Linked DNA regions of Homo sapiens. The protein of the gene in region 6 purifies or fractionates together with the protein of the main gene of each other region. This does not show direct contact. Each region holds a gene or a part of one and is shown on either strand. Other genes may lie near its edges. The genes, in order: DCTN6, TRAPPC6B, UACA, GULP1, USF2, CCDC102B and EDC3.

Region 1 (4,158 bases), on a different chromosome or scaffold from region 6:
CTCAGCCTCCCTAGTAGCTGGGATTACAGGCATGTGCCACCACACCTGGCTAATTTTGTATTTTTAGTAGAGACGGGGTTTTTTCAGGTTGGTGAGGCTGGTCTCGAACTCCCGACCTCAGGTGATCCACCCACCTCAGCCTCCCAAAGTGCTGAGATTACAGGCATAAGCCACCGTGCCCGGCGACCTCATCTCTTAAAAAAAAAAATATGGAATGATCTCCAAGCTATATTGTTAAAAGTAAAAAAGAGTGAAGTGAGAAAATGGACAGTATGTAATATGCCATTATTTTTGTAAAGGTAGGAAGAAAAAATATACATTCAAACTATTTAACAACCAGCAAGGTAATACTAACTTAGAAATTTAAAATTTACAAATGTTTCTGTTTACTCTCATATATATATATACATACACATATATGAGAAACTTTTTACCAAGTAATATAAATTGTAGTACAAATTCTTCAAAAGACTCTAATAATTTCCATATAACTTATTGATGCTTTTTTATATTCTGCTGTTATCTTTTGTTTGACAAAGCTGTATGTAAACACTGACCCTAGCTGAACCATGAGCTGACATGAGGAAGTACATCAAATGACTTCTCCATTACAGTGATAGTTATTAGGAAACTTCTTTTCATTAATAAAAGAATTTTTCTAAATGGCAATGACATTCATGGTGTTAAATCTGCTCTCAGCTACTATGAAATAACACTAACATTTTAGATATTTTGTCTTTGTAATTTTGTTTGGATTTTTCAAAATTTTGATTTCCAATTGTCACAGTATACAGAAATACAATAGTTTTGGGCTGGGCATGGTGGCTCACACCTGTAATCCCAGGACTTTGGGAGGCCAAGGTGGGTGGATCACTTGAGGTCAGGAGTTTGAGACCAACCAGCCTGGCCAACATGGCAAAACCCCGTCTCTACTAAAAATACAAAAATTAGCCGGGCATGGTGGTGGCCTGTAGTCCCAGCTACTGGGGAGGCTGAGGCAGGAGAATGGCATGAACCCAGGAGGCGGAGCTTGCAGTGAGCCGAGGTAGCGCCACTGCACTCCAGCCTGGGTGACTGAGCGAGACTCCATCTCGAAAAGAAAAGAAAAGAAAGGTGTAAATGTTTGTGCAAGAATGCTTATGTAAAAATATTAAGGCTGGGCGTGGTGGCTCACACCTGTAATCCCAGCACTTTGGGAGGCCAAGGCTGGCGGATTGCGAGGTCAGGAGATCGAGACCATCCTGGCTAGCACGGTGAAACCCCGTCTCTACTAAAAATACAAAAAATTAGCCGGGCGTGGTGGTGGGCGCCTGTAGTCCCAGCTACTTGGGAGGCTGAGGCAGGAGAGTGGTGTGAACCCAGGAGGTGGAGCTTGCAGTGAACCAAGACTACGCCACTGCACTCCAGCCTGGGCGACAGAGTGAGACTCTGTCTCAAAAAAAAAAAAAAAAATTAAAACACAATTTTATCTATTCTATCTATTTTTAAATACCATATGCATACATCTAAGCAAAGACTGGTAAGTAACAAAGTAAAAACCTCTTCCCCCCTCCCAGGTTGGACATCACTGAATGAGAAGAAGCACAAAAATCATGAAGAGAAAGGGAGCAGGTAAGGCTGGGAGGAAAAGCAGGATCAGCCCATGAATAAGCTTGTACACCATGACCAGGGATTTGAATTTGCACCTGTAGGCAAGAAGTCACTGAAGGATTCCTATTCCCAAGCCAACAATGTCACCAAATGGTATGCAGATAATTGACACTTGTATGAAGAAGTACTTGGTGGTGGGGGGGGTCAGGGAGGCAGTTGGTCTAATCCTACAGAGATAATGCAGGCCTGAAATGCTGTATTAGTCCATTTTCACACTGCTCTACAGAACTTCCCTGAGAATGGGTAATTTATAAAGGAAAGAGGTTTAATTGACTCACAGTTCCACATGACTGGGGAGGCCTCAGGAAACTTACAATCATGGCGGAAGGTAAAGGGGAAGCAGACACCTTCTTCACAAGGCAGCAGGACAGAGAGACAGTGTGAGCGCAGGAAAAACTACCATTTATAAAACCATCAGGTTTCACAAGAACAGCATGGGGGAACCACTCCCATAATCCAATCACTTGGATTACGGGTCCCTCCCTCAACAGGTGGGCATTATAATTCAAGATGAGATATGATGGGGACACAGGGCCAAACCATATCAAATGCACTGGTAGCACATAGGAGAAGCTGCAGGTATGTCTAGGAAATAGAAACAAGACTTGGCAACAAACACATTTAATAAAAATCTGGTTTCTAGGCAACGTTGAAGGTAGGTATTTCCCATTCCTTGTTACAGGCCCCATGGACCACAAAGTGCATACAGTCGCATCCCTCAGTACCCAGTATCTGTGGGAGATTGGTTCCAGGACCAGTCCTCAGATGTTCAAGTCTCTGATATAAAATGCTGCAGTGTTTGCATAAAACCTATACACATCTTCTCATACTTTGTCATTTCTAGATAATTTACAATACCTAATACAATGTAAATGCTATGTAAATAATTATACTGTATTGTTTACAGACACAATTTTTTTTTCCTATTTTCGATCTGAGGTTGGTTGGATCCATGGATGTGGAACCCATGGATATAAAGAGCAAACTATATTTGCTTTCTTCTCTGTGCAGGGGAAGTAAGTTTGACTAGTGTATTGGTCTGTTCTCACACTGCTAATAGAGACATACCTGAGACTGGGTAATTTATAAAGGAAAGAGGTTTAATTGACTCACAGTTCAGCATGTTTGGGGAGGCCTCAGGAAACCTACAACCATGGCAGAAGGGGAAGCAAACACGTCCTTCTTCACATGGTGGCAGGGAAGAGAATGAGTGCCCAGTGAAGGGGGAAGCCCCTTATAAAACCATTAGATCTCATGAGAACTAATTCACTATCATGAGAACAGGATGGGGGAAACGGCTCCCATGATTCAATTATCTCCACCTGGTCCCTCCCACAACATGTGGGAATTATGGGAACTACATTTCAAAATGAGATTTGGGTGGGGACACAGCCAAACCATATCAACTACAGAAGGATGGGTGTGAGGGGCATGGAGTGAAATAAGGAAACTGGTGCCATCTTGTCCCCTTCCTGGGAAGGGATGATTCCTGATGGAGAGGGAAGCTCAAATTCCAGGGCTCAAAATCAGCTGCTGTGACTCTGCTTCACTTATGCCAGAAAAACAACCAAAACCAGCCTGGGTCACATGGTAAAACCCCATCTCTACAAAAAATACAAAAATTAGCTGGGTATGGTGGCTTACACCTGTACTCCCAGCTACTTGGGGGGCTGAGGCGGGAGGATCGCTTGAGCCCAGGAGGTAGAGGTTGCAGTGAGCTGAGATTGCACCACTGCACTCCAGCCTGGGTGATGGAGTGAAACCCTGTCTCAAAAAAAAAAAAAAAAGAAAACTAATCAAAAGTCTGGAGCTAGGGAGCAAGGTCAAAGCCTCTAGGTTTCTGATCTGGAAAACTAATGGCACCATCTGAGAATAGCCTATGGGAGGAGGGGTAGATTTTAGAGAAAAAAGTCATTTGGCTAAATTTTAGATAAACTCAGTCTGAGGTATCTATGGAATGGTCACCAGATATATCCAATAAGCGACTGAAAATACAGATTCTGAAGCTCATAAGAGAGTTCTAAAAATACAGCTCTGAGAGTCAGAAGGGTAAAGATTCTTTCATTAACATGTCTCTCCATCATTTCTATGCCAGAATCTTCCCCCCAAGTATTCCCTAATATACATGCAAAGTAAGATGAAAACTATTTTTAAGATTGTACCAACTTCCCTACTGGTGTGATGAACTAAAAAAAAAAGAAGACATACACAAATTTTTCTTCCACAAATTAGGGTGGACAAACCTTCACACCGCCATGAATTTTTAAAGCTCTAAGTAAACAAAAAAACATGTATCAAATAGAAAAAACTAATAATCCCTGAGTCTATCTTCAAGAAATGGTTTTGAGAATAGACACAGCTCCAGCTGTTTCCATCATTTTGTTAGGCTCTGACTTTTTATAAGGCGTAAGTCAATGAAATCCTACCAATGGTCCTTCTGGGTGATACAGCCTGTCAAGAGTCAATCTGGGCCAGGTGCAGTGGCTCACGCCTGTAATCCCACCACTT
Region 2 (4,158 bases), on a different chromosome or scaffold from region 6:
CCACTGCACTCCAGTCTGGGTGACAGGGCGAGACTTCATCACCAGAAAAAAAAAAAAAAAAAAGACCAGCAACATCAGCATCACATGGGAACTTGCAAATTCTCTAGTCCCACTCCCAATTTACTTAATCAGAAACTCTGGGTATGGGGCCGCTAATCAGCTTTAACAAACCTTCTAAAAATTGATTTTGATACTCAGTCCCACTTCCTTGCTTAATCTGTCTCCACAGAACTTCTTTCACCATTTAATATACCATACATTTTACTATTTTATATTGCCCATGTGCCCCTTGTTCCCCTCTCTGCTAAAATAAAGCTCCAAAAAGGCAGGGATTTTTGTATATTCTGAAGGCTGTTTGTCTCCCACTAAGGAAACCATAGGGCTTATTATTTGCTAAACTTTCTTCTAAGGAACCATGCACTCTGCTTATGGTGCTGTGACTATTAAATCTGCGTTTCTAGTACAGACTTTATTGGGCATAGACATCTAGTGGTCCCACAGGACCTTCGAAGTATGCATATTCAAATGATATTCATTTTATTAATGTCTTCAGCCTGCTCTGCCTCCAAAATTTCCTAACTTCATTAATGGCACCACCATTCACCTAGTTACTCCAACCAGAAAACTTCCATTTTCTTCACCCCTGTGCTCCCAACCCCCCATACACTGTAGTCCGGTGGAGCCTATCTTTTACAAGCTTTTCAAAATTCATCGTCTCTCTCTACCCTTACTTCTTAAGTAAAGCCTTATCATTTCTCTCCTGGTTTTTAGCTATAGCTTTCCAACTGGTCTTGTCTCATTTTTTCCTACTTTGTGTCATCTTCTATATTTCTGGTAGTGTAACTTCTACTAAAGTAAATTTCTAAAAAAAATCATGTTATTCTCGGCCGGGCATGATGGCTCACGCCTCCTAGCATTTTGGGAGGCCGAGGCAGGCGGATTACCTGAGGTCAGGAGTTCGAGACCAGCTTTACCGACACGGAAAAACCCCATCTCTACTAAAAACATAAAACATTAGCTGGGCATGGTGGCGCATGCCTGTAATCCCAGCTACTCGGGAGGCTGAGGCAGGAGAATTGCTTGAACCCAGGAGGCGGAGGTTGCAGTGAGCCAAGGTCACCCCATTGCATTCCAGCCTGGGCAATAACAGTGAAACTCTGTCTAAAAAAAAAATCATGTTATTCTCTACTGGAATTTCAGCACCTGCTCCCCTTTCTTCAAAATAAAGTCCAGGCCTGATGTAGTGACTCATGCCTGTAAATCCCAGTACATTGGGAGGCCAAGGATTGCTTGAGCTTAGGAGTTCGAGGGCAGCCTGGGCAACATAGTGAAACCTCATCTTTAAAAAAATTACAAAAATTAGGTGAACATGGTGGCATGCACCTATAGTCCCAGCTACTTGGGAGGCTGAGGTAGGAGGATGGCTTGAGTGCAGGAGGCAGAGGTTTCAGTGAGCCAATATCTAGCCACTGCACTCTAGACCGGGCAACAGAGTGAGATCCTGTCTCAAAACAAACCAACAAACAAACAAAAAATAAAGTCCAAACTCCTTAGCATGGCATCATGGTATGTCCTTTCCTTAAAGACTCCTGGCTAGTTAACCAAATTCACAAACATCCTTCCCTTTTACCACTCTGAAATTTCTGCAGCAACTCCAGAGTGCCATGTTCTCTTCTGTCTCCCTGCCTTTTTATGTGCTATTCCCTAGACTTCACATTCTTTTTTTTTTTTTTTTGAGACGGAGTCTCGCTCAGTTGCCCAGGCTGGAGTGTAGTGGCGTGATCTCGGCTCACTGCAAGCTCTGCCTCCCAGGTTCACGCCATTCTCCTGCCTCAGCCTCCTGAGTAGCTGGGACTACAGGCGACCGCCACCACGCCCGGCTAATTTTTTGTATTTTTAGTAGAGATGGGGTTTCACCATGTTAGCCAGGACGGTCTCGATCTCCTGACCTTGTGATCCGCCCGCCTCGGCCTCCCAAAGTGCTGGGTTACAAGCGTGAGCCACCGCGCCTGGCATTCACATTCTTTAAATTCTGCTCAAGTATTACATTCTCCCAGATGGCTTCCCTGAAACTTCCTTAGGCCCTATGCTGTCGTAAAATTCTGTACATACATCTATTACTGTACGTATCACTATCTTCAGTTTTTCTGCTATTCTCCACACTTCTCAAACATGCTTAGGATGAGGCCAGGCGCAGTGCTCATGCCTATAATCCCAGCACCGTAGGAGGCTGAGGCAGGAGGGTCACTTGAGACTAGGAGTCTGAGACCAGCCTGAGCAACATAGCAAGACTCTGTTTCTACAAAAAAAAATTTTTTTAATTAGCTGGACATGGTAGCATGCCCATAGCCCTAGCTATTCGAGAGGCTGATGTGGGAGGATCACTTAAGCCCAGGAGGTCAAGGCTGCAGTGAGCCAAAGTCCCAACACTGCATTTCAGCCTGCATGACAGAGCAAGACATTGTCTCTCTCTCTCTCTCTCTGTTTTTTTTTGAGACTGAGTCTTGCTCTGTCACCCAGGTTGGAGTGCAGTGACACAATCTCGGCTCAATGCAACCTCCGCCTCCTGGGTTCAAGTGATTCTTCTGCCTCAGCCTCCCGAGTAGCTGGGACTACATGCGTGCACCACCACACCCAGCTATTTTTTGTATTTTTAGTAGAGACGGAGTTTCACCATGTTGGCCAGGCTGGCCTGGAACTCCTGTCCTTGTGACCTGCCTGCCTTGGCCTCCCAAAGTGCTAGGATTACAGGCCTGAGCCACCGTGTCCAGCCTCTTTTTTTTTTTATTTAAATAGAGACACTGTTTCACTATGTTGCCCAGGTTGGTCTCCAACTCCTGGGCTCAAGTAATTCTCCCACCTCAGCCTTCCAAAGTGCTGGGATTTACAGGTGTGAGCCACCACACTAACCCAGAGACTTGTCTCTTAAAAAAAAAAAAAACAAAAAAACAAGTTCAGCTAGAATAAGTGTCTGTAAATCATGATGCTCTTTTTGGAATAATCTGCTCTCTGTAGAATCACCTAGGAACATATTTATTAGCAGGAACTATTGAAACCACCTTTGCAAAGATTGTAACAGTAAGAAAATCATGACTGTAAAAGAGATCTCACCTAATCAACTCCATCTTGCCTTTAACCTCCAAGCTGCCCTTGGTCATTTCTGGATGCAGCCCAAGCTAACTTTGGGAGAAATTTAGTTTATAGTGTAAGCTTAAAGCAAGAATGATAATAGCCCTTCCCGAAACTAAATCACCTTTGCAAAACTAATGAAAGACTATAAGGTTAGGCTTATGAGAGGGGTCTGAATTCTGCTAAAATGTAGGTAGTTAAATGATAATCAGACATTATTCTGGAAGTCACAGATTTGTAACTTCCCCAATTACTCCTGTAAATAATATCACTATTGTAGAACCTAAAAAAGGCCTTTTGAGATGTCTTTTCAGACTTTTGCATTTCGGATGACTCCAACTGGTCCTCTGGCCCCCACCTCTGTAACTGCATCCCCAACCAACCAGGAGCACCCATTCCCCAGCCCCCAGCCTACCAAACTATCCTTGATAAACCCTAGACTCTGCATGTTTGGGGAGGCTGATTTGAGCAATAATAAAACTCTGCTCTCCCATTTAGCAGCTCTACATAAACTCCTTATTGCAATTCTCCTGTCTTGATAGATCAGCTCTACCTGGGCAGTGGGGAAGAAGAACCCACTGGGCAGTTACAATATGCTTATATGCAGACACTTTCAAATCCTATGATCACATGAGCTTTTGAATTAAGCCCTACTACTTAATTTTGCTACTTGTTCATGCACTTTTGAGTAGGCACCAAATTTTTAAGAAAAATTCAACTTGAGAACATTTTATCCATTAGCCTTTCAAAATCCATTCACCATAAATTGAGAAATGCCCAATTAGTCCATTTTAAGAGAATTCCTCTTTAAGCATAGTTTGAAAAACCTTGATTTGGAGGGTTAGAACACTGTTTCTTTCTTTTATCTCACCTCAAGTCTTATGGAAGTTTATTTTGCTATACTGAAAATTTATAAAACTTTATTTCATTTAAAAAAACTTTCCATAACAAAAACAAAAAAAAAGACACATAATCCTGTCAGCGAGAAATGGATTTTATAGGTCTTTTCAGACATAAACAACATAGTTT
Region 3 (4,158 bases), on a different chromosome or scaffold from region 6:
GAGATGTGAAGGACCTCTTCATGGCAAACTACAAACCACTGCTCAATGAAATAAAAGAGGATACAAACAAATGGGAGAACATTCCATGCTCATGGGTAGGAAGAATCAATGTCATGAAAATGGCTATACTGCCCAAGGTAATTTATAGATTCAATGCCATCCCCATCAAGCTACCAATGACTTTCTTCACAGAATTGGAAAAAACTACTTTAAAGTTCATATGGAACCAAAAAAGAGCCTGCATCGCCAAGTCAATCCTAAGTCAAAAGAACAAAGCTGGAGGCATCATGCTACCTAACTTCAAACTATACTACAAGGCTACAGTAACCAAAACAGCATGCTACTGGTACCAAAACAGAGATACAGACCAATGGAACAGAACAGAGCCCTCAGAAATAATGCCACATATCTACAACTATCTGATCTTTGACAAACCTGACAAAAACAAGAAATGGGGAAACCATTCCCTATTTAATAAATGGTGCTGGGAAAACTGGCTAGCCATACGCAGAAAGCTGAAACTGGATCCCTTCCTTACACCTTATACAAAAATTAATTCAAGATGGATTAAAGACTTAAATGTTATACCTAAAACCATAAAAACCCTAGAAGAAAACCTAGGCAATACCATTCAGGACATAGGCATGGGCAAGGACTTCATGTCTAAAACACCAAAAGCAATGGCAACAAAAGCCAAAATTGACAAATGGGATCTAATTAAACTAAAGAGCTTCTGCACAGCAAAAGAAACTACCATCAGAGTGAACAGGCAACCTACAGAATGGGAGAACATTTTTGCAATCCACTCATCTGACAAAGGGCTAATATCCAGAATCTACAATGAACTCAAACACATTTACAAGAAAAAAACAACCCCATCAACAAGTGGGCGAAGGATATGAACAGACACTTCTCAAAAGAAGACATTTATGCAGCCAAAAGACACATGAAAAAATGCTCATCATCACTGGCCGTCAGAGAAATGCAAATCAAAACCACAGTGAGATACCATCTCACACCAGTTAGAATGGCAATCATTAAAAAGTCAGGAAACAACAGGTGCTGGAGAGGATGTGGAGAAATAGGAACACTTTTACACTGTTGGTGGGACTGTAAACTAGTTCAACTATTGTGGAAGTCAGTGTGGCGATTCCTCAGGGATCTCAAAGTAGAAATACCATTTGACCCAGCCATCCCATTACTGGGTATATACCCAAAGGATTATAGATCATGCTGCTATAAAGACACATGCTGCTATAAAGACACATATGTTTATTGCGGCACTGTTCACAATAGCAAGGACTTGGAACCAACCCAAATGTCCAACAATGATAGACTGGATTAAGAAAATGTGGCACATATACACCATGGAATACTATGCAGTGATAAAAAAGGATGAGTTCATGTCCTTTGTAGGGACATGGATGAAGCTGGAAACCATCATTCTCAGCAAACTATCGCAACGACAAAAAACCAAACACTGCATGTTCTCACTCATAGGTGGGAACTGAACAGTGAGAACACATGGACACAGGAAGGGGAACATCACACACTGGGGCCTGTTGTGGGGTGGGGGGAGGGGGGAGGGATAGCATTAGGTGATATATCTAATGTTAAATGACGAGTTAATGGGTGCAGCACACCAACATGGTCCATGTATACATATGTAACAAACCTGCACGTTGTGCACATGTACCCTAGAACTTAAAGTATAATAAAAATAATAATAAATGTAAACAAGTAATCAGTTATTATTCTATTTTCTTGATGAGAAAACCAAGAGTTAAAGGGAATGTTCCTTGCCACTTCCTTGTAAGTGGCAGGACTTAGACCAGACCTTCCAACATTAGCTTCTAAATCCAGGCACTTATCCTTCTATATAAGGTATAAAACCATAGGAATGCCTCTTTATTCACAAAGATAAAAGATTATTTTAAAACCTCCTTTAGTTTAGTGGACCAATATTTTAGAGAGCACCCTGCAATGAGAAAGATGCTGGATTTGGAGTCAGCCAGTTCCAGGTTTATACCCCAGCTGAATGACCCCAGGCATCAAATATGTTATTCTTTGTTTCCTTAAGAATTAAATGGAGGGAATAAATCTGCTTTGTGAGATCATGATGAAGATAAAGTTTATAGATAAAGTACGTAAAATGTTTAATATGGTGCCTGGTGTATAGTAGGCATCAAATAAGTATTATTACACCACCAGTATAGGTAACTTTTCGCATATAAAAATAATTATATTCTTGGATCCGAACATAGCTACAGAGCACTTTAATTTCTAAATGAGCCTTACAAACTAACTACAGGGAGCCAGCACATATTCCTGCAAAGCCCCGTGTGCCTGGTTACTCACGGCCAGCTGTTGCTCCAGAGATTTCACTTGGTGCTGCAGAGTGTCAATCAGCTGGCTCTGCCTCTTGGTGGGGTTCCCACTTGTGTAGGTGAGTTGGGAAAGGCCATTGAGTGCCTGTTTTAATCTTTCCACATCATTAAGCAGTTCAGTTATCTTTAAAAAAATGTTGTAGGAGAAATATATTATTCACTTATCATGTACAATGAACATCTTTGTACAGAAATCATTCCTTTTTGGAGACAGAAGCTTTATCTTTATACACCAGAAAATTGAGGTATGAATATTGCCAAGACTGTTACCAAGGATGTATACAATATGTAATTTATAATTAAATCCCTCTCCAGAAATTATTTACAAAAGCAATACCAAATTAAGAATAAATATTACATATATCCTAAGATGTGAGTATAAACATAGTCTTACTTTTAGCTAATATATAAGCATCTACGAAGGCACATGAACTATCTTCCAGGTAACATATGGAACACAGGAAGGGAAGGGGGATTCCCAGCAACAAAGTGTGAAAAGTAAAAGGGTGTGGCCCGTGTAAGTCTAGGATTAACATATGTTCCTTTTTCCTTTCAAGAGTTGTATTATTTAAGACCACTTTGTTGTAGAGAGAAAAAAAACAAGGAGGCTTGTTTATAGGAATAGGAAGTGCCTAGAAACATAGCATTTTTCCACCCTGCTTTAAAGTCAGACAGAGTCAACTTGTATGAGCTTGGCTAATTTACTTTTCTGAGCCTTAGATTCCACATTGGTGAAAGGTGGACAATCTTTCAGAGTTAAGAAAATCAGGTTGGGCACAGTGGCTCACACCTATAGTCCCAACACTTTGGGAGGCTAAGGCAGGAAGATTGTTTAAACTCAGGAATTCAAGACCAGCCTGGGCAATAGAGCAAGATACCATCTCCTCCCCCACAAAATTTTTTATTGAAAAATAATAATAGAAAAAAAACAAAGAAAATGAAATGCAATTACATGCACCCGCTCAATAAATGGCAACAAGTAGATATTAATAATTAACTCTTATATATTACTATATATATTCATAGGTACCTTCTGAACAAGCTTAGAGCATTTAAATTCTCAATCACAGAGATGGTGTGCCAGAGGACAGTATGTACAAGTACTTTCCACTGGGGAGGGCAGTCTGTGTCTGTGTTTACTCCACTGTATCCCCAGCACATGACATGCAGAAGGCATTTAATCATTACATGTTGAATGGATAAAACTGCAGCCAATCTTTATATGTCATATCCATAGTAAAAACTTTATGCAACATCAGTGTCAAAAATATTGTTGAGTACCTATTCTGTAAATTGTACCATGAGAATTAAAGCTAAGATGGAAAGTTAAGTTATAAACCCTGCTCATAAAAACTGATTGGGAAGATCAACTACATAATTCTAACAAGGTAATATAAATGTTTTAAATGGATGGCAAAGCCACAGTAAAACATCCACCTTAGAGGAGGAACTGTTTACTATAGACTAGATTGGACAGTGAGGGCTTTAAGAAGGAGGATAACATGTTAATGAATGTATAGGATTCAACTCAGTAGAAAGGAGGGAAAGGACATTCTGGGTGAGGGGATGTAGACTTTCTAGTCTGTAGAAAGACATGAGCAACAGAACATAAAATGAATTGGAGGGCTCAGTTTACTACTATGGGTGAGTACCGAGATCAACTCTAGATGCTCCCCAGTGTTCTTGGTTTCTTGCAGCCCAGAAAGAGAGCTTCCCCACCACCCTCTTCCCCATCTTTCATATGCCACAAACCCACTGGCTTTTGACTCTT
Region 4 (4,158 bases), on a different chromosome or scaffold from region 6:
TTTATGATCAAGAAAATCTGTTACATAATTAGCTTCAGAATGTGTCTGTATTAATTAGAGATTATTTAACAAATGAATTATGCAATTTAATTTATTTAAAATCATTTATTTTCAGGAAAACCAAACATATCGTTGAGTTTACATAGAAATACAATTTTCAACCAGATCTTCATAAAAACGCACTGGAGAAATAAATGTTCATAATTAATGACCAGTTATGTACTATTTCATCATGCCAGTAGCAGAGTTGATTACCATTAAAAATTGGTAAAGTAACATATCTTAAATGTGCAAATACCATCTTAGTACTCCATTGTGTTACCATTGATAATAAATGGCCACTAAATATATACCTATTACATAAATCTTTTTAAAGTACAATAAAAATACAAATTCTATCTGTTAAAAAAAGCCACTTATATGGCTTCTAAACATCCTTATTATACAAATTCCAAAATACTATCTGACAAACAAAATTATAAAGACTCTTCTTTATGAAACATATATTGCCCTCTAATTAAGGTACAACTTAGCAGATAAAAGAAACTAAACAAGAAGGCTCATATATACCATATAACATTAAGGAAAAACACACAAATATATATTGCATAAGCATATTTGATTTCTTTTCCTAGTGAAAATGTACCTTTAACACTTGAAGAAAATTCCAATGAGTAAATGATAAATCTATTTTTGAGGGCTACCCCTACTCTAAGTCACATTTTCATTAATTTAATTTATTTATCTTATAATGTGATGAACCAAGTTAGAAATTTTGACCATAAATTTTTGTTTTACTGAGTACAAATTAGTCTGTTAGGTAAAGGGTAAAGGTATAGGAAACAAATATTTTTAAAAGTCCAGGTTCATCAGCACATCAATAATGAAATGCAAGAGAATTTTATTGCTCATGTTCAAGACTAAACTGAGCAGTAACTGGGTTTTTTTTTTTTTTTTGGAAAATGAGATTTTTGACTTTAACAAAACAAATACAGATTGAATTTACCAAATATTGATAATTCATGTAGAACGGGTGCCACAGATTTTAAAGTATCAAAACCAAGAGGGCATCACAAAATAAACTTTGGTGAAAAATATCTTCATCAAAGAAGAAAATATGAGAAGAGTAGTCCTTATGCAGTGAGGAGAAATATATTTGGTAAAGTAAATATGGGTAGTAGATACTGAATCTATAGATAGCATATATTCCAAATGTTTTTTAGGGAATATCAAATCAGATGATGCTTAGATGTTATAGTAATATCACTTATCTCATTTGGAATGAAATTTAATGTTTTTTAATAAATAGCAAATTTTCATTTTTTCACTACCTTTATAAAACAAATTAAATATTTAGAGTATAACTGATCATAACTAACATCACCTTGCATTTACTAATAAATACTCTAAATACATTTGGTTTATTATTGGAATTTATATCCTTATAATTTTACCTGCTAGAAATTAGTGACCTTGTGGCATTATGTTTAAAGTTTACATTTTCCCAGTGATGTGAACAGTATTTATACATAAAATGATATCTGTCCAATGAATAGTAACATGTTTGTTGGTTTAAAAACAGAACATGTTTAGTTTGACATTGGCATGTCTCTTCAGAATTTAAAAAGTTATCTTTAAGGTATGGCTTTTGGGAAATCATTAATAAACTAGCCATCTGGAAAATGAATACAAATTTCAAGATGCTAACTAAATAGAACTCAGACACAAGGCAGGTATTTGTATAATATGTCTTTCAATTACAAATTCATCTACAGTAGAAACAGAAAGGAACATAAAAGTATGATCTACTTTACAGTAAGCTGTTTTTAAAATAAAAATTACAGATCAATAGTGAAGGTGAGGAAATTTAACTGAGAAAATTTTCAAAATATTAAAATATTCAAAAACATTGACACATGAATAATACCTATCTTAAAGTAATAATAATAAATGACATGTGTATACAAACACATTTAACATGAATCAGGATTTCTTGTTCTTGATGTCAGCACCTACTGTCTAACGGGTCGAGACAAAATACTGTGCCTTCAAGAGTTAGTCCCATTTTGAACCCCTCCTGTAAAACAGAATAAAATAATTAATATCTGAAATGCTTACAGCAAAATAAAATCAGTGAATAAAAAAGACTATGCACTAAAGTTGAAATATTCATGCTTTGATCAACTAATAAATAACTATATGTCAAATGTTGACTTGCTGAATTTTTATATAGGTGTATAGCACTGGTAGTTCTTTCAGACCCATTAACACTTTAATGTTTTAAATCTATGTGAGGTTAGCATGCATGAGAGACAGAAGAGAAAACATAAAATTAAGATAAAGGTTTCTTTTTCAGAAAAGGCTAGTTACTACATCATTCTATTGTAAATGAAATCTGTTAGCTTTAAAAATTATTATTAATTTAAATATTATTAAGATAGTTAGGCTTCAAATTGATGAGAGGTTCAAGATAGCCTGATGATTTTCACCTTATTCCTGGTTAGCACTGACCAGAGCCCGGGTAAAATACTTCTTTTAAATGCAATGCCGTATCCTCTGTGGAACACACAACTGCAGATTACTTTGCCATGGAGAAAACTTCCCCTACTAGCCTTGCTGTTGCTTGTAGCGGACTGGCTTCTTTGACTCCTACTCTTCCTTGCATATTTTAGAAGTTAAGTTGTCTATGATTTATTGAGTATAAGAACACAATTGCTAAGAAAGTGTTTTTCCACCAAGATTTTGAATTAAAATAATGGCATAGGAGTCTGTCCTCCTTCACTCCAATCTCTTTTTTTTTTATTGCATAAGATAATTGAACTGTGGGCCATCTCCAGTCTTGCCACCTCTCCCCATTCCTACCCTTTCCTGTAAATCTATACACATTGGCCTACAAAAAGATGAAAAGCACAGACTTGCACTGATCAATGAAAGTGGAGGTTACATTGTAGGTCTCCTTGTAGAAGCAAATGTGGTAGTGCTCTCTACATACTCTACCTTTTTTTTCTTACTAACAGAACTGAAATGTTTCAGAAAGGTAATTTGTAATTTGGAGTGGCCATGCAACACATTATTGGCAAATAATATGCAGATAGCAGTGTATTCCTAAAGAAAACAAAATGTCTCCTAAAGGTAACCATTGGTTTTCACCTCTGCTTTGGGTGTTTTATTTAATTGGACTGACTATATCTACTTGTATGTTAGCTAATTGGGTATCTTTTTGCATCTCTCCAAATTACTTTTATTTAGAATAATTATGTAAATGTTCTTATCTTTCTATAAATCCAATGTAAACATCATCATATAGAGGAGGAAGGTAGTTACAAAGCTGTAAGCCATACTTTATTTGTTATTAATGTTCAAAGAATATTCTTTATGTTTACAGCACAGAGACTACTACTATATAGCAATTACAGTGATGTAATCATTGTGAAAGTTTTTCAAAATGTCTTTCCAGTACTTGGAATACAATCTTTATTTAGTTGAGTAAATATGAGACTACTTATCATTATTTTTTAAAAATCTATTCTTATCACAAAATACATTTTGCCATATTTATTTATATTTTTCAAACAGCCAGCAAATACTTAGAAAAATAAATACTTTAAACTAAAATACTGTAAGTAAACTTTTCTTTAAAATTATTTTATTTGGATATCTGAAGATCTGTATATTATGTCATCTTCTGGTATATTACAAATGGTAAATAGATGATACATTGATAGATAATGACAGATAGAAAGAGAGTTACATGTGGAAATGTTTGATACCATACGGTACTTTTAAATTTTATCAGTTCATTCTGCTAGTAAACCAGTATCACTTCAATTACCCTGAAAATACTATTTGTCAATGTGTTATCAATATTGGAAAAGCAGAATAGCAGCCAAAGTAAAACAGAGGTCAATCACTATTTTAATAATAAAGTGTTAGTATATGACTTACAATAATATCTATCTCCATATTGACTTTTTAAGGATCCTTACATATTATAAGGTTTCTTGATTTTCTTTCTTCCTCAGATAAAATTTCCCACACCTGTTGAGCTTCAAACTTCTTAATAAAAATGAGACTTTATTTACTTATGTAGTGATGGGAATTATCATAAGCTAACGTCACACAAAAGAATGATTAAATAATTAAAGTATTATTCACCAT
Region 5 (4,158 bases), on a different chromosome or scaffold from region 6:
TCCCAGTGGGATGTAGCTAAAGTGATGCTGGAGTGAACTGGCAACTCTAAATGTTGTTAAGCAAAGAGAAAGGTTAAGAATCATCTCAATCCCTGCTGTGAAACATTAATCCTGTAAAATAAAGATTTTAGTAGAAAATTGGAAAAAAAAAAAAAAAAAGAATTACCTTAAAAAGCTGGGGTTGGGGTGTGCCAGGGAAGCTAAAGCATGAAACCTAGCAAATTGAATCCAAAGTGAGTAGAAGGGGCCGGGTGCAGTGGCTCACTCCTGTAATCCCAGCACTTTGGGAGGCTGAGGCAGGTGGATAACCTGAGGCCAGGAGTTCGAGACCAGCCTGGCCAACATGGTGAAACCCCGTCTCTACCAAAAATACAAAAACTAGCTAGGTGTGGCAGCGGGCACCTGTAGTCCCAGCTACTTGGGAGACTGAGGCAGGAGAATCACTTGAACCGGGGAGGCAGAGGTTGTAGTAAGCTGAGATTGCGCCACTGTGACAGAGCGAGATTCCATCTCAAAACAAAACAACAAACAAACAAAAAACCAAGTGAGTAGAAGCATGAATTAGTAACATTAAGAGTAGAAATCAATGAAACGGAAAAAGCAATCTAATCTGGCACCTAAAAATCAGATTTCACATAAGTCTCGATTTCTAGCTTCTCAGAGTTTCTGGCAACAGTGGCCCTAGATTCTGACAGGGCAGCAAGGGGAAGGCACTGGGCAAGGGCCACCCTTCAGGCAGCGCACACATGCCCCAGATCACTGGGGGCCCCCCACAACCTTTCCTATCTTTTTCTGACACAAGGTCTGGGTCTGTTGCTCAGGCTGGAGGGTAATCTCAGCTCACTGCAACCTCTGTCTCCCGGACTCAAGCCATCTTCCCACCACAGGTTCCCAAGTAGCTGGGACTGTTACAGGCATGTACCACCAGGCCTGGCTAATTTTTAATTTTTTTGGTAGAGACAGGGTTTTGTCACATTGCCTAGGATGGTCTCAAACTCCTGGGCTCAAGTGATCCGTCCGTCTTGGCCAAAATGTAATCCCAAAAGTGCTGGGATTCCGGGCGGGAGCCACCACACCCAGCCACACACCCCTTCCTGAGATGCCAAGTGCACCTCCCTCCCTCAGGCCCCTGCAGGCATTTGAGTCTGTGACTCTGGGATAAGCTCCTGCAGTACCAAGAAGTGGTGGGAAGGAGGGAAAAAGAAGTGAGAGAAGCGGATCTGAAATCACCACAGAAGAGAAACTTGGGGTTTGTGGCCATAAGGGAAGAAGAGGGCAGAGTTGAAAGCGGCTCTGGTCTTAGTTTCTGGCTTGGGCAGCTGTGACAGGGGTAGCTTTTGCTGCTCTGCAAAGAAGAAGGTTGCATGAAAGCCTTTGGAGACGGGAGATGGCACATTCTCTTTTGGGCGAGTTGAGTTTGAGGCATTACAGGGATGTCCAGAGACAGAAATCTCGAATAGGTAGTTCAAAACGTGGGGCTGGAGTTGCAGTGAAAGGAAGGGAATGGATGGAAACACAGTTCCTTGCATTACCAGGAGCCAGGTGGTGGGCGAAGCCTGGGAGGACATCAAGGAACAGTCCTCAACTTTTTGTGAGTCACACACTCTTCTGCAGCAAAGAAAAAAGAGGAACACCTACAAGGGGGAACAGAGTTTGGGGGATACTGACCAAGAGCTTCCGAGCCCATCGCTGGGCCTCACAAGTCATACACCTGAGGCCGACGGGAGGGGCCGGACCTTATGAAACACCAGCAAGACTGGGTGTGGCAGCTCAGGCCTGTAGCCGAGGCCGGAGGACTGCCTGAGGCCAGAAGTTCAAGACGAGCCTGGGCAGCATAGCAAGACCTCCACTCTACAGATAAAAAAAAATTACCCCATGTGATGACGCCTGCCTGTGGTCCCAGCCACTCAGAAGCCTGAGGTGTGAGGATCGCTTGAGCCTGGGAGGTCAAGGCTGCAGTGAGCTGTGATTGTGCCACTGTACTCCAGCCTGGGTGACAGAGTGAGACCCCCTTCTCAAAAAAAAAGAAACACTCGCAGCCAAAGCAGTTTCTCAAGCTTGTCCACTATGACAAATCACCTGAAGAGCTGATGGAAAACACAGATTCCCCGGCACCCCCATCTACTCACTTGGAACTGGGACAGCCCTGGAAATTTCACTGTTAACAGTGGGGTAGGAAAGGCAAAGATCACAGGAGAATCAGAGAGGATGGAGGAGAAAGGAAGATTCCAGAAAGGAACAGAGGGAAACAGGCAGCATCAGATGCTTGGAGCCCAGACAGCAAAGGAGGCCAGTGGATGTGGCAATGGGGTCACCACGGGTGACCGGAAGTGGAGCTGTTTTGGTAGAGCCATGAGCCAGATGGCTGAGGGTACTGGGAGGATGAGCAGATTGGGGCAGATGCTCTGCAAGTCAGGAAAGCGGAGACAGGACGGAGCTGGAGAAGTGGGCAGGTGATGAAGACTGCTTCACAGGGTGAGAAAGTTTCAAGGCTGCCTGGAGTCAGATTAACTAAGGGAGAGGCGGGGGTGAGAGTGGGGTGGGAGGGTTCTGAGTCCTCTCTTCGCCTTACTGTGTGGCCACCAAGACTCACTGCATCCCCACCAGGTGCCCGGGGCGGCTGTGCTTCCACCATTTCACAGAGGGAAGACAGGTACGGAGATTAAGAACCACCCTGACGCCCCACCACAGGTAAGTCGTGGGGCTGGGGCTGCTCTGGGGGCCCCTCAAACTCACTGCATCTCAAAACCAAGCTCAGATGCACCCCTTCCCTTCCAAGCATGGAGGGGAGTTCAGCACGAAACCCTTATTCTCCAGCCTTGGAGTCCTCCCCACATTTCCCCCAACCCCTGCCCTGTCTCAGGCCTGACAGTCGTATGGTCTCCTACCTCCCAGCCCCTTCCCACCACTCTTGCCAACAGCCTCCACAACCCAAACCCCTCTGCTGGCTTCTCATCACCCTGGAATAAAACCACAGGAGCCCAGACAGCCACACTGGGGACTTCTTCCAAGGTCCTCCACCATCTGGCCTGGGCAGCCCCCTCCACTGCGCCAACTTCCTCTTTCCTTTCCTGAATTCTGCTCTTCTGCAGACACACCATGGCGGCCCTGGCTCAGGGCCTGGCCTGTGTTCTAGCTCTTCCCTCTGCCCGGGACTCTCCTGAGGTTCTCAACAGGCCCCTTCCCTCAGGTCGCTTCAGGGATCTGCTTCAATGTCACCTCTCGAAGAGCCCTTCAGAGCACACTACCATGCCGCCATCACCCGCCACCTTCTTCCCCAGCTTTCCTCTCCTGCCTGTGACTGCCTGCACTGCCTGATGCGGCTGTGTGACTCCCATCTCTCCCACCAGAACGCGCACAGAGAGCTGAGACCTTGTCTGTCCTATCATCTGCTGCATTGCCATATCTGAGGACGCAAAAGGGGGGCTGGTCGTAGTATGCACGCGCTGAATGAACGCCTGAACTCAGGGAGGAGCTGCTCAGAACACAACTACCTGGGCCACAGACCCCAGTCCCATCACCACCTTTAGGACTCAGCATTCAGCCCCTCACTCGGGCATTCGAGGCCTTCCCGATCTTCCCTCCTGAGGCATTCTAAATGGAACTTCTCCCACAACCAAACCAGCACCCCACAAAGTAACCTGACCCACACTCCCCTCTCCCTAGGGAAGCGTCACCCCAGCCCACCCCCCATCAATGTCCCATGAGACCCATGAGACATAAGCCCTCAGGCCTTTGAGCCTCCCTGACGCTCCAGGCCAGACTCCAGACCTGGCACAGGGCCTGTGCCGCTCAGCCCAGAACCCACGGGCAGTAAATATTTGTTGAATGATGGTTGTTTGGGTGTAAGCACTCTCCTGGCACTTGCACAGTGCTGTGCCCACTGCAGTGGCTACTGACAGGCGGGGCGGGACAGTGCTGAAGGCCAAATGACCTGAGGTGAGACCTGGTGTTTCTGGAAAGGGCAGGATGCTCCGGCCTTAGGTAGCCAGAGGCAGAACTTCATGCAGTTTCTCCCTCAGATGTGCTCCCTGGGGGAACAGACCTACTTCTGGAGGCCAGGCAGGCATGGGAGTGCGGGATGTGAGCATGACAGCTGCCACGTGGAAAGGTCAGCCCACGTGAGCCCGGTCAGCCCCATTTTTCAAGTGGGGCAGG
Region 6 (4,158 bases):
GAATTACTCCACGTTCTTAACACCAAACTTCCCATTTGTATGCTCTATCTAATTTCCTCTAATCCGCTCCAGGACATGGCCTCCTCAAATATACTCCTCTCCTGTTTAACTAGTTTGTACCTCTCTCTAGATTAGATTATTCCCATTAGCAAATGCACATGCTATAATACCCTCAACATAAAAAAAAAAAAAAAGATTTTGATCCCAACCCAGCAGCCATTCCATATCTTTGGCATTTTCTAAAATAAAAATTATTTTAAAGACACTTTCATTTATCTCATTTTCTCTTGAAGTCGCAGTATCATTTTCAACTCTAGTTTGCCACAAAAACAGGAAATCAGTGACTTCTACATTGCAAATCTAATGGTCAATTCCAGGCCTGAAATTCCTGTTTTACTTGGCCAACCAGAAGCCCTGTATGTGATTGTCCATTTCATCATTCCCTTTCTTGGCTTCTGAGGGCATCCTCTCTCATGGTTCTCCTCCTACTCCCTGGTAGCTGCCCCACATTCTGTCTCAGCTTCACACCTCTGACTGCAAGCGCTCCAACACTGAGACTTCAGGCTGGGGTAATTGCTCTGGGTGAAGGCATCCAGGCCTTTGACTTCAAATTCATTAATTTTCTGAAATTTCCTAACAGACATATCTCTGGCCTGAGATGTTCCTTTATCTCTGGGATCTCACGTGTCCAGCTGCCCACTTAACATCACTAAGGATATCTAATCAGCATCTCAGATTTCACATGTTCAAAAACAAACACTTGAACTCCCCTCACATCTACACCTGCTCCTCCACAGTGTTCCCTGTGTCAATAAATGCACATTTCACTCTTCTAGGTTTACAGACCAAACTTAGGGGTTACCCTTGATTCCTTTGTCTCTTCATTGCACATCATTGTTGGAAACTCCATCAGTTCTGGCAGGAAAATATGAAATACAGCCTATGCAGAATTACAAAAACTCCATCTCTAATATCTCCTTCAAACCACCCTGTCTCTTGCCTGGAATACTGTATGGTATCTGGCCTCCCCACTTCTACCTTTTCCCTACTCCAGTATGTTCTCCACAGCACAGCCGAGTGGATGCTTTGAACACTCAACTTATGTTACAATATTTCTAGGATCCCAACATTCAAATGACTTCCCATCAAACTCAGAATAAAGTGGTTGTAGTTTATGATGTTGTCATGATCTAAACATAAACCATCCCTGAACTCTTCATCAGGACCCATGATTTCCCGACCTGAGGCTCCTACAGTTGGGGTATGAAGAGCCCTTTTAAAAGTAAAATAATATTAGGTTGGTGACCATGTAATTGTGATTTTTCCCATTGAAAGTAATGGCAAAAAATGCAATTACTTTTGCACCACCCTAATATCTTGAAGCTTAAGCTGGATTTACTTCCTCTTAAAGTAGCTTCTGCCTGTGCCTCCCTGCCTCGCTCATTCCCAGCAGCTGCCGGCCATCTGGCCATTCCTTGAAGGGACATTCTTCTGACTTAAGACTTTAGCACATGTGATTTCCTTTATACTTCTCTTCTGCCAAGATTCCTCGTGGTTAAGTATCTTACATCCTTCACCCTAACAGAAGGGACATTCCCTGGTTATTTCAAGAGTGTGTAAATATTCTATTCCCTTTTAGCCTGAATGTTCTTTTTTTCTTCCAGTACTTATCATGACTTAATATATATTTATATACTATGTATGGATTCTACTGCTTTACCAGCTAGACTATATGCTTAATGTAAAGAAAGGGGTTTTACTTTTTATTCACATCTCTATTTCCATTGCTAGAACAGTGTCTGAGACATGGTAGACATTTATTACTAAATGGACAAATCTAAAACAGAGTGACTTAGAACTATTCCTTTTCTTCCAAAAGGCAAGCATTACAAGTTCCACTAAATAAGTCAGTCTTCTCTAAAGAAGGTGGCTTTTAGATATTAAACGCTTATAGGCTTTTAAAATTAATAAAGAAACAGTTTTAAGTGAGGTTAACCCCAATCACACCACTTTAATTGCTATCAGCAACTTCATTCTTCCAAGTACTTAAATAATTCACAAATACACCTATGATGATTATCTGTATATACAAAAGATGAAGATTTACATTTATTTGGCCAGAAATACTTTTGAAACAGCGTGGAAAGTGGATAGGATATTTGGGAGAACAAAGCCATGTATCCCTTTCAGAGATAAGAGGACCAAGGGGTTTCAAAAGAATCAGCAGATGGGAGGTGGAGTTTGTCTTCTGCACTATTTCTACTTCTGATATCGTTTTGGATAAAGATCTATGCTTCTCGAATATGTCATTTATATTAATTCAGATAAACATCCTGCTCAATAATATGGAAGAAACTTATAGCCACAGAGGAAACAATGACGGCCAACCATAGACAATGAATGGACCATGTGAGGTCCAGGACCAGAGCTTTGCATTCAGTACCTATGCTTAGGCCCCAGCCTTCTGTGAGAAGCCTGTATCTGAGATAGCCCTCCTAGTTCTAATCCATGAATACTGGAATTTCTCCCATTAATCTACATTATCAGGTCAAATTTATTTAGTCCTGATACCAAAAACATAAAATATAAAAACATATCAAAAACATAAAAGCCAGCAAGTAAATTCATATAGCATTAACACCTTTAGAGGGCACTTGTAGCACGACATAATTGCAACATCCATGTTTTTAATCCATGCAATCATAAATTCTATAACTTAAGTTTCATTATTACAAAAAGAATGAAGAAGCCTGGGCAGTATCAAAAATAGGATGGCAGGGACTCTACGTAGTTGCTTTGACCCAACTCATTCCTACCATTGACAATACCTGTAAAGTGATTTCCAAACAAAGATAGAACAAAGCTCACCTGAACCCTCAGACAATCCCTGAGATTATTCTAGCTCCAAATTAGGAACAGGTTATAACCAGAACCTTCTAGAATTATATGAAACACCAATGGATTATGGCACTTCCACATCTTTCTCTTTTTTCCTGTGCTACCAAATGTTATAATCCCACTGAGCACCTTATAATTTTCATGTTTTATTGTGAAATACATTTTCTTCTCATCCAGAGAAGAAACGCTTGTTCAAAACCCTTCATGTCAAAAGAAGATAGAAAATTCATGAATATAGGCTGACTAATAAGACTATTTGATCTTTTGCAGAGGTCATAAATGTAATCTTTCACCTAATGCCTTCACAATCCTAAATTCACTAAGGGAGGAAAGGAAAGATTGTATGAAAGACTCTCAAAACTATTTCCAAATGAAAATGAGTCTAAAGTTGCTACAGGTTTTTCTTCATGCAACTATTGCCTCTTTACCTGTGTTATATTTCCAAACGTTTACTGCAGCTTAGAAACATATGCTCCCGAGTCAGTGACTAAAAATCTCACTTTTATTTTTGGAAACTTTAATTCTACAAATTTGAAACAGACACTATGATAAGATATATTTATAAATTCTTCAGTGAGCATATGTTTTTTTTCTCAATATTAAGGACACCTTTTTCTTTAGCTACTAAAAAAATCCTTCTATCAAAATTTTAACATCAAATATTTTAATATATTTATGACACACAACAGCAATTCTTTTAGGAAATATCATTAAATATAAATCAACTTGGATAATATTTAAGTATATAATAATGTTAACAGTCCTTTGCAAAGCTATGACTACAATTAAATGGCCTTGAGCACAACCTCCAATACAATATCTAGTTTTCCATTTTACAATCAAGGTCTCAAGCTCACAATCTCCATTGAGCATCTACAATTAGTCAGGGCACTGAGGATGGAGCACTAGTTATACAAAATGTCTTCTATAGAATATATTCTTAGAATGCAACCTAAACCTGTACAAAAATAAAATCTCAAGGTCAGTGACCAAATCTTTGCATTTCAACTATCCTCATCTGTTTTCGTGTACGGCAAAAAGATACTCCTTCAGTAAAGCCTACTTAATGATAGTATGATTCTAAACTAGTAGGCAGTATGTTCATAAAATGATAGCATAGTTACCATCATGTATACATTGAACAAAAAAACCTCGTTGTTATGAAATAAGCTATAATTTTTATTTCATTGAAAAAAAAGAAGAAGAAAATGAATGTTATCCCAGATACTAGTTCTACTTTGAGAAGAAGTAATGTCTTTA
Region 7 (4,158 bases), on a different chromosome or scaffold from region 6:
GAGTATGTCCTGACTGAGTGTGGGGGCTCACGTTTATAATTCCAGCAGTTTGGGATGCCAAGGCAGGTGGATCACATGAGGTCAGGAGTTCGAGACCAGCCTGACCAACATGATGAAACCCCATATCTACTAAAAATACAAAATTGGCCGGGCGCAGTGGCTCACGCCTGTAATCCCAGCACTTTGGAAGGCTGAGGCAGGTGGATCACAAGGTCAGGAGTTCGAGACCAGCCTGACCAACAAGGTGAAACCCCATCTCTACTAAAAATACAAAAATTAGCCAAATGCGGTGGCATGTTCCTGTAATCCCAGTTACTCAGGAGGCTGAAGCAGGAGAATCGCTTGAACCCGGGAGGCGGAGGATGCAGTGGGCTGAGATCGTGCCATTGCACTCCAGCCTGGGCAACGAGAACAAGACTCGGTCTCAAAAAAAAAAAATTAGCCGGGCATGGTGGTGCATGCCTGTAATCCCAGCTACTTGGGAGGCTGAGGCAGGGGAGTCACTTGAAATTGGGAGGCGAAGGTTGCAGTGAGCTGAGATCACACCATTGCACTCCAGCCTGGGCAACAAGAACAAGACTCCATCTCAAAAAAAATTAAATAGGCCAGCCACGGTGGCTCACTCCTATAATCCCAGCACTTTCAGAGGCCGAGGCAGGTGGATCACCTGAGGAGTTTGAGACCAGCCTGGCCAACATGGTGAAACCCCATCTCTACTAAAAATACAAAAATTAGCCAGGTGTGGTGGTGGGTGCCTGTAATCCCAGCTATTTAGGAGGCTGAGGTGGGAAAACCACTTGAACCCAAGACGCAGAGGATACAGTGAGCAGAAATTGCGCCACTGCACTCCAGCCTGCTAACAAGAGCAAGACTTTGTCTCAAAATAAATACATAAATGAAGGGAAAGGGGCAAAAAAGCATATACAGCACTCCTCCAGGCCAGCCGCAATGGCTCACGCCTATAATCCCAGCACTTTGGGAGGCCGACGTGGACGGCATGGTGGCATGCACCTGTAATCCCAGCTACTCAGGAGGCTGACAGGATAACTGCTTGAACCCAAGAGGCGGAGCCTGCAGTGAGCCGACACCGCACCACTGCACTCCAGCCTGGGCAACAGAGCAAGACTCCGTCTAGAAAAAAATAAAAAATAAATAAAAATAAAGCACTCCTGGCTGGGTGCAGTGGCTCACAGTTGTAATTCCAGGAGTTTGGGAAGCCAAGGCAGGAGCATCACTTGAGTCCAGGAATTCAAGACCAGGCTGGGCAACACAGCAAGACCCTGTCTCAAAAAAAAAAACAAAAAACAGTATGCCCCATTAGAAACACTAAGTCTGAAAGAGTCCAGCTCTAGGGATTAATCAAACTCTAGATAGTTCTCTAGTGATCTAACTGAGCCAGTATCATAAAACTATGCGGACAGAACCGAAGATTAAAAGAACAATGAATTAGCAGGCTCATACAGGCTTTTTTTTGTTACATTTATTATAGAATGAAACAGAGCCTTGCTCTGTCGCCCAGGCTAGAGTGCAGTGGCGCAATCTTGGCTCACTGCAACTTCTGCCTCCCAGGTTCAATCAGGCAATTCTCCTTCCTCAGCCTCCTGAGTAGCTGGGACTACAGGCGCCCGCCACCACACCCAGCTAATTTTTGTATTTTTAGTAGAGATGGGGTTTCACCATGTTGGCCAGACTGATCTCGAACTCCTGCCTTCTGGTGATCTGCTCACCTCAGCCTCTGCACTAGGATTACAGGCATGAGCCACTGTGCCTGGCCCTTGGGTAAATTTTCAATGCAACACAATTTCAACAATAATGATGATGGTAAAAAAGCACAAAATACACACATTTTAGGCTTCTTTTCCCTTCCTGATCAACCTTTGCCTAATGTCACAAAAGCATGAGTTTCCTTTCCTATCATTTATAATCCATCATAATTCTACTCAGATGCTTAGATAGATGCAGAATAAAAAGCACCAGAAATTAACCAGATATGAAAAGGCTTTTACTGTTTTATTTAACATATATCTTTAAGACACTGATGTTGTGCATTCAAGTTTATATTATGGTAGTAGTAACTGAATAGAATTTTTAACACTTTGAAAATGTGGATACTCGTTTATAAGTGTTCTTCTATGTAGTTAATATTAATAGAAACTTTTAAAAATATAACCACTGAATGTGTAACAAACTTCCCTTTCCTCAGAAACTTCCCTTGGTAAAATAGCATTATTCAAAACTCCTCAAACAGGTTTATTCTATAAAGAAAATTATGCTATTTACAGAAAACAGTAAATCTAAAACAAGTACAGTGCCCATCAACTGGGTTCCTAATCGGACTAGGGAAGGGGCTCCATCAATTATACAGCTAACACCTCCACGTCAAAAGAAGTACAGGAGATACAGGAGCTACAAGGAACCAATCTTGTCTTTTATTTTCTACTTTTCTATCAAGGTATAACATATACAGTAAGTCAGTCTACATATTTTAAGTGTACACCTCCCTGAAATTTTACATATCAATTCACCCATGTGACCACCACTCAAAACAAGACAGACTATTTCCAACACCTCAAAAGGCTCCATTGTGTCCTCCTACAGGTAGTTATTATTCTGACATCTATCATGAAAGATTATTTGAGCCTGATTTTGAGCTTCACATAAACAGAATCATAAAGGTTCTCTTTCAGAGTGTTTGTCTTCTTTTGCTCAAAAGTACATCTGTGAGGCCAGGCATGGTGGCTCATGCCTGTAATCCCAGCACTTTGGGAGGCCACGGCGGGTGGATCACTTGAGGTCAAGAGTTCAATACCAATCTAGCCAACATGGCAAAACCCTGTCTCTACTAAAAATACAAAAAATTAGCTGGGCGTGGTGGCACATGCCTGTAATCCCAGCTACTCAGGAGGCTGAGGCACAAGAATCGCTTGAACTGGGGAGGCGGAGGTTGCAGTGAGCCAAGATCCTGCTACTGCACTCCAGTATGGGTGACAGAGCGAGATGCTGTCTCAAAAAAAAAAAAAAAAAAAGTACATTTGTGAGATTCATCCCCATTGTTGCATGTATCAGAAGTTTATTCTTTCTCATAGCTGTGCTGTTTTCTGTAAGCATGCCTCAATGTATTTATCCATTCTACTGCTGATACATAGTTGGGTTATTTCTAGTTCTGACTTATTACAAATAATATTCTTAAACTGTATACAGTATATTTCTGCGATGGACAAATACATCCATTTCTACTGGGCATATAACACAGGAAGTCATGTTATATTTATGACTTTATTAGGAACCACTGAACAGTTTTCCAAAGTGGTTGTACCATTTTGTATTACCATCTACATTTATACAACCCACCATACGTGAGTTCTTTCTGCTCCTCATCTTGCCAAAACTTGGTACTATTGTTCTCTTCAACTTACTCATTCTGGTGGGGTGCAATGGTTTTGGTATTTTCTTAAACATACTTCTTATTTACTCTTGCTTCATTGATACTGTTATTCTCCCAATAAATTATTCCTAAAATTGTAATGACTACTGAATTCAGAGATGTTGTGAATTACTATTCAGTCAAGAACTTGCTACCAAAGTTCATTTAGTCTTATTTGTCTTCCTTCTCCCTCCATTTCTTTTTTTTTTTTCTTTTTTTGAGACGGAGTCTCGCTCTTTCGCCCAGGCCGGACTGCAGTGGCACTATCTCAGCTCACTGCAAGCTCCGCCTCCTGGGTTCACACCATCCTCCCGCCTCAGCCTCCTGAGTAGCTGGGACTACAGGTGCCCGCCACCGCGCCCGGCTAATTTTTTGTATTTTTAGTGGAGATGGGGTTTCACCGTGTTAGCCAGGATGGTCTCGATCTCCTGACCTCATGATCCGCCCGCCTCGGCCTCCCAAAGTGCTGGGATTACAGGCGTGAGCCACTGCGCCCGGCCCTGCCTCCATTTCTTAAACACCTCCAGGTAAGAATACTTTAATTCATTTACCACTTTGTTCTTATACAAATAAACAAGTTGCCAATTACAAATCTAGCTACTTTGGAATATCCTTCATCTCATTAATACATTACTAGTGTAAGTTTGCTGACAGGATTTGATGTACAATAAAAAAAAATACATCTTCCCTGTAAAGCCTATTCATGACAATAAATCCTTCAAACAATTCCACTT

The links.
Region 1: the proteins of CCDC102B (region 6) and DCTN6 purify together in Homo sapiens (affinity purification with mass spectrometry; one large-scale study listed by BioGRID and IntAct). This does not show direct contact.
Region 2: the proteins of CCDC102B (region 6) and TRAPPC6B purify together in Homo sapiens (affinity purification with mass spectrometry; one large-scale study listed by BioGRID and IntAct). This does not show direct contact.
Region 3: the proteins of CCDC102B (region 6) and UACA purify together in Homo sapiens (affinity purification with mass spectrometry; one large-scale study listed by BioGRID and IntAct). This does not show direct contact.
Region 4: the proteins of CCDC102B (region 6) and GULP1 purify together in Homo sapiens (affinity purification with mass spectrometry; one large-scale study listed by BioGRID and IntAct). This does not show direct contact.
Region 5: the proteins of CCDC102B (region 6) and USF2 purify together in Homo sapiens (affinity purification with mass spectrometry; one large-scale study listed by BioGRID and IntAct). This does not show direct contact.
Region 7: the proteins of CCDC102B (region 6) and EDC3 purify together in Homo sapiens (affinity purification with mass spectrometry; one large-scale study listed by BioGRID and IntAct). This does not show direct contact.

Annotation. Positions count from the first base shown.
Region 1 is NC_000008.11:30,159,043-30,163,200, reverse strand, and holds part of DCTN6 (dynactin subunit 6), read right to left. Parts: intron 1-4,158. UniProt on the Homo sapiens protein: Part of the dynactin complex that activates the molecular motor dynein for ultra-processive transport along microtubules.
Region 2 is NC_000014.9:39,163,329-39,167,486, forward strand, and holds part of TRAPPC6B (trafficking protein particle complex subunit 6B), read right to left. Parts: intron 1-4,158. UniProt on the Homo sapiens protein: Component of a transport protein particle (TRAPP) complex that may function in specific stages of inter-organelle traffic.
Region 3 is NC_000015.10:70,662,304-70,666,461, forward strand, and holds part of UACA (uveal autoantigen with coiled-coil domains and ankyrin repeats), read right to left. Parts: intron 2,512-4,158; coding exon 2,359-2,511; intron 1-2,358. UniProt on the Homo sapiens protein: Regulates APAF1 expression and plays an important role in the regulation of stress-induced apoptosis. Promotes apoptosis by regulating three pathways, apoptosome up-regulation, LGALS3/galectin-3 down-regulation and NF-kappa-B inactivation.
Region 4 is NC_000002.12:188,591,859-188,596,016, reverse strand, and holds the end of GULP1 (PTB domain-containing engulfment adapter protein 1), read right to left. Parts: intron 2,078-4,158; coding exon 2,006-2,077; 3' UTR 91-2,005; downstream 1-90. UniProt on the Homo sapiens protein: May function as an adapter protein. Required for efficient phagocytosis of apoptotic cells. Modulates cellular glycosphingolipid and cholesterol transport. May play a role in the internalization and endosomal trafficking of various LRP1 ligands, such as PSAP.
Region 5 is NC_000019.10:35,271,434-35,275,591, reverse strand, and holds part of USF2 (upstream stimulatory factor 2), read right to left. Parts: intron 1-4,158.
Region 6 is NC_000018.10:68,800,901-68,805,058, reverse strand, and holds part of CCDC102B (coiled-coil domain-containing protein 102B), read right to left. Parts: intron 1-4,158. UniProt on the Homo sapiens protein: During interphase, forms fibers at the proximal ends of centrioles to maintain centrosome cohesion. During mitosis, dissociates from the centrosome following phosphorylation to allow centrosome separation. Contributes to CROCC/rootletin filament formation.
Region 7 is NC_000015.10:74,685,900-74,690,057, forward strand, and holds part of EDC3 (enhancer of mRNA-decapping protein 3), read right to left. Parts: intron 1,281-4,158; exon of another isoform or gene 1,192-1,280; intron 1-1,191. UniProt on the Homo sapiens protein: Binds single-stranded RNA. Involved in the process of mRNA degradation and in the positive regulation of mRNA decapping. May play a role in spermiogenesis and oogenesis.